Regions from separate parts of the Homo sapiens genome. Here region 1 is linked to region 2. Evidence: fine-mapped QTL for protein levels in blood plasma. A gene starts in region 2. The other region holds a variant in brackets. All regions are shown on one strand. Distances are from middle to middle. Region 1 overlaps CD274 (CD274 molecule). Region 2 holds the start of CD274 (CD274 molecule).

Region 1 (2,500 bases), 14 kb before region 2:
TTCCCTATTTAACATCAGACAACTCTATACCATCACTGGATCTCTTGGTATACTTCTCTAAGTATTGGAGGAATTATTTACTCTGACTCATCTTAAATGGGAGGAAATTATTTGAATATACTCATTTTCCTGGATTTTAATTGTTCCCACAGGTAAATGGAGAAATGAACACATGCAAATTATGTAACATCCTCTACCAAAAATTTTGCAAAATACTCTATGGTAAACATACTACAGTTCTACAGAGGAACTATTTTTATTACTTAGGGTACCCAGAAACCAGCTGGTTGCAACTAATGCAAGACTAAAATGCAACTGAAAATGACGGGCATTTTAGCTCTTTCTCTTCTGTAAGTCTGTGGTTATTTTCATGATAGAAAAAAACTGTATGACACTGCATCTTCTACCTCCATCCATACCCATTCTCCTGCCCCTCACCCCTTACGCTTCATCTTCACCCAGTGATCCCACTCAGCTTCAATATAATTGCTGTTGAACAGTGGAATGCCTTTGCACCACCTTGCAGAGGTTAAGTCGGGTTTCCTTGCAGCCATGATCCAATTCTCACCCCTTCCTCACCCCCAGTGGAGACCACTGCAATTAAGGAAATACTACCTTTTCTTAAACGGAAGATGAATGTCAGTGCTACACCAAGGCATAATAAGATGGCTCCCAGAATTACCAAGTGAGTCCTTTCATTTGGAGGATGTGCCAGAGGTAGTTCTGAAAAACAAAACAAAACGAAAACAAACTGACTAAAGATAAAATTTTGATGGGAAGGGGTCAGGAGAATGGTCATCCTTGAAGTTTAGTTTAGCTTTAGGATAATTTTCTTAAATGCCAAAGTTTGAGTGGCTGGAATGGCGAGATACCTGTGTTAAAATGGGAACAGCATGGAGAAGTGTGAGAAGCCCAGGCTTTGAAAAGGTGGTGCTGGGGCTAAATTCTGCTGCCCTTAACCAGTTTTGAGGTCTTGGGCAAGATACTTAACCAGTGTACAAAATACAAATGCTAATACATTTCTTGTGAGGCTAATATTTATAATGTGCTTGCACAGTACCACATGGAGTGGCTGCTCACTATTAAATGGC[G/T]GCCTTGATTATTTCACTTCCTCTTGCTTTTTTTTTTTTTTTTTGAGGCAGAGTCTTTCTCTGTTGCCCAGGGTGGAGTGCAGTGGCGCAATCTGGGCTCACTGCAACTTCCGCCTCCCAGGTTCAAGCAATTCTTGTGCCTCAGTCTCCCGAGTAGCTGGGATTACAGGTGCACACCACCACACCCAGCTAATTTTTATATTTTTAGTAAAGGCAGAGTTTCACCATGTTGGCCAGGCTGGTCACAAACTCCTGACCTCAAGTGATCTGCCCACCTTGGCCTCCCAAAGTGCTGAGATTACAGGCATGAGCCTCCGCTCCTGGCCCCTCTTGCATTCTTTAATATAGAAGCTAGTAGCCTACAGTACATGGCAGAGATGGCCCACAGTAGAACATGGAAGGCCAACCAGCACTGCTAAGGAGCTCCCACCTCCTCCTATCTGTCATCATGATTGGAGGCCAATGCTTGTTGTCTTATCTTTCTCTGCAGTTTGAACATCTCTGGACAACAAGCCATTAGTATCTCTTACTAGGCTCCTTGTCTGGGGTACCATGCAGGAGGAAAGGGGGTCCCATGGTACACAGATGTTCAGAGGCTGCTAACTCCCACCTCTCACCCTTAGTCAGCTCCTGCCTGGCTCAGCTCTCCACTGAGACCCATGATCCATCTTTGACTACCCAGGTGAAACTTTAAAGACACAACAACAGCCAGCTTTTTCCGTAACTTACAGTTTACAATGCCTGTTCACGTATGTTTTATTTCAGTTTCAGAACAACTTTATGAGTTAGGCATGCCAGGTATTTAAAAAAAAATCCCCAATTTACAGATGAGGAAACAGACTCAGTGCAGTTAGGTGAGTTACTGTAGGCCACCCAACAAGTAAGTTGTCATAAAACAGCTTGTAAATGGCAGGAACCCACTAATCTAGCTTTTACTGAAAGCCAGTTCAATACCTGAGGACTCGTACCCCAGTAAGAGCATCCCCATCATTTTCTAAAGTTTTTTCCCCCTCTTTCTGTTCACAACACCGTCCTGGATTATCTTTTCCTATTGATTGACTTTTCTATCTAATTTTTCAGTTGTTTTTGCTGAAGTACGTGGCATTTTCCTATCAACATGTATTGGGGGAGGGGGCAGTGAGCAGCTCTTCTCAGAATATCTTTGTGTTTATATTAAATATCATGCTCACTCGCCTCACTTTCTTTCACATTCTGAGCCTCTCATCAGACTCTGTCTCCCACCCTACCTACTTCTGTAGAGTAGTGAGATAAAAAAAAATAGTTGAATTTGTGCAGGCAATGGTCTCAAATCATTTTCATACACTGTTGCTAATCTGACCCTTACAATAAGCTTGCTCAGTAGATTATAATCCTACAGGGAAAGTGAAGCACACAGAAGTCTAGTAATT
Region 2 (2,958 bases):
AGGCAGGCGGATCACCTGAGGTCAGGAGTTCGAGATCAGCCTGGCCAATATGGTGAAACCCCATTTCTACTAAAAATACAAAAATTAGCTGGGCGTGGTGGCAGGTGCCTGTAGTCCCAGCTACTCGGGAGGCTGAGGCAGGAGAATCACTTGAACCCGGGAGGCAGTGAGCTGAGATTGCACCACTGCACTCCAGCATGGGCAACAGAGTGAGACTCTGTCTCAAAAAAAAAAAAAAAAAGACAAAAAAAACCGGTTAAACTTCCTTTCTCAAAAGTAGGAGCAAGAGGCCTGCATGGTGGCTCCCGCCAGTAATCCCAGGACTTCTGGAGCCTGAGGAGGGAGGATCGCCTGAGGCTAGGAGTTCGAGAACAGCCTGGGCAACATAACAAGAGCCCCATCTCTACAAAAACAAAAAAAAAATTCTTAAGTAGGATCAAAGATTAAGACAGTTGATTTATTAAACCTCTACTAAGTGACCAAACTTTATTAAACTCCATGAAACCCCATGCCCAACCTCCTTCTCAGTCACACTGAGACACTCTTGTACATTTTCCACATGGGGTTTCAATTCCCCACAGTATTTCTGTGACTTCCTTGAAGACCACACTCTAACTGCTGTCATGTGGCCTCTGCCTACCTACTTTTACTGAGAAAGGCTAAGTTTTTCTTCAGAGTATCATAGTTCTCCTTAAATACTGTTGACGACTGTCATTGTCAACTGATACATCCTTTCTGGAAAGCATTTTCAGTTTTCTTCAAAAGGCCTTTAAAATATTCAGGCTCTTTGACTAAGTAGTTACACTTCTAAGTTTACTTGAAGGAAACAATCAGCAATATTCCAGAGATATATATGCAATGAGTTCAGTGAATGGCTAAGACAGAACCACTGTAAATAACCTTTATACCCAACAGTGAGGAATTAATTTCATTTAGTTACCCAATCTAATCGAATGCAGCAATGAAAACATTTTTTAGAAGGTTATTTAATTCATAGAAAAGCATCCACAGTAAATTTTTTTCAAGTATTAAAAAAAGAGGTAGAACAATGGTACTTTTACTCCTTGTGTTATAAGACAAACCCAGACTGAACTTTGACATAGGCCAAGGTCAATGTGTCTAAGAAATGTTTTATTATACTATTTTTATTCTTAGGCTCCTCCATTCCTCTTTTAGGACTCCTTTGGGTTCTCAGAATGGACAGAGCAAATAAATTCCGTTCAGGGATCCTGGACCTGCTTAGCGCAGGAAGAGACTTACTTAGATGCTGCAGCTGGGATAACTTACACAAGTCATGTTACTAGCAAGCAGCTGGCGGTGGACTTGGACCCGTGTCCAGACCTCCAGCCTAGCATCAGAGCTATATTCTGAACACACAGTCGCATAAGAATGACTACCTATCCTATACTACCTATCTTATTTATTTTTAGAGGTATAAATTATTTTTAGAGCAAAACTGAATCGCGCCTGGAGGAAGGCCAGATGCATTGCCTGTTCTTATTAACCCCAACAGGTAATTGGCTCTACTGCCCCCTAGACCATCGCGTTCCCTTTCCCTTCTCCTCTCTCCATCCCAAAGAAAGGGTGTAGAGACCCTCCGTCCTAAAGTGCCCAGCGAGCTAGCCAGAGATACTGGGCCGTGGGCACCCGCGGAGGAACAACGCTCCCTACCTGCAGGCGGACAGAAGCGCGGCTGGTGCGGAGCCTCGGGAAGCTGCGCAGAACTGGGGCCGCGCGGGACGCGCCAGCTGCTCAGCGTTGCGCCAGGCCCGGAGGCGGGGTCCCGCCCACCTCTGCCCAAGGCAGCAAATCCAGTTTGCCGGGCGTTGGACTTTCCTGACCTTCGGTGAAATCGGCGGAAGCTTTCAGTTTAGGTATCTAGTGTTGGTGTCCTAGGAATAAAGCTGTGTATAGAAATGAAACAGAAAGTGAAACATGTCAGTCCAGTTTTCTTGTAAATGAGATTTTCACCGGGAAGAGTTTCGAAGATTAAAGCAAATCCACATTTAGTATGTTATTAATAAAAAAAGAAATTTACAACAAGCCAACATCTGAACGCACCTTGATTTTACCTTCAGAGGGGTAAGAGCTTAAGGTTACCCCTTAACCTTTATCAGAAAGGCGTCCCCCTTTCTGATAAAAGCCTCTTCAAGGTGACTGAACATCTTGACATAACTTGATATAACTCTACAACATATAAAAAGTCAGCAGCAGACCCATATGGCTTTGGTTTTTATTCTAGAAAGTAGGTGTGTGTGTGTGTGTATGGGTGTATAATAGGAAATATATTTTTAAATCGTGGATTCTGTGACTTCCTCAAAGTTCCTCGACATAATGAAACTTCATTTGCTTTGTCATTAAAAGAACTTCCCATCCCGAGCTACATCTTTTAAGAATGCTCAGGGTCCCTGATATTCTGCCACCCTAAGGATTAAGGCTGCGGAAGCCTATTCTAGGTGAGGGTTAAGAAAGCCCTTTTGAAAGCTTTGGGTTAGTGAATGGGCCCAAGATGACAGACGATGGTGTCATAATTTACTTAAGTATTATCCCGCGCTGAACTTCTAGGTGCTCTCTTTTCTCGAACTCCTTGACCTCAAGTGATCCGCCAAAGTGCTGATATTACAGGCTTGAGCCACCGTGCCTGTGTGCTCCCTTTTCTTTTTTTTCTCTTTTTCTAAATTGAGAAATTGGACTCTTCGTTGTTTGCCTTTCCTTCTTATTCATTTCAACTGCAGTTCAAAATACTGCATAATGAATGAATATTGAGATAGCCCTTGCATTGGTTATGACATTTGCTTCCAAAATAAGAATTTTCACATTCTGATTGTATCACAGATTTTTATTTTTATCTGGGAAATTATTGAGGCTGACACTGCCTTGATTTGGCAGGAGCATGGAGTTCTCTTTGGCCCCAATAAAATTGCAATAGGGTTTGGGCCCAGCTCAGATGTTCCTTCT

The links. PIP is the chance, under the fine-mapping model, that this variant and not a neighbour inherited with it causes the effect. The UK Biobank Pharma Proteomics Project read protein levels with antibody pairs (Olink). The fine-mapping took linkage between variants from a reference panel, not from the people measured, so its PIPs are less certain.
Region 1: its variant is fine-mapped to the plasma level of the CD274 protein (UK Biobank, PIP above 0.99).

What each region holds. Positions count from the first base shown.
Region 1 is chr9:5,463,722-5,466,221 of GRCh38, reverse strand. It overlaps CD274 (CD274 molecule), which reads right to left. Exons shown (of 7, transcript NM_014143.4): 5 at 616-723. The region is part of intron 2 of INCR1 (interferon stimulated noncoding RNA 1); the gene reads left to right. Among named protein-coding and RNA genes, the nearest start is that of CD274, 14 kb to the right of the region's middle. The variant G/T (reference allele first, on the strand shown) is at 1,092.
Region 2 is chr9:5,449,310-5,452,267 of GRCh38, reverse strand. It overlaps CD274 (CD274 molecule), which reads right to left and starts at 1,726. Exons shown (of 7, transcript NM_014143.4): 1 at 1,672-1,726. RefSeq lists enhancers at 1,450-1,609, 1,900-1,949.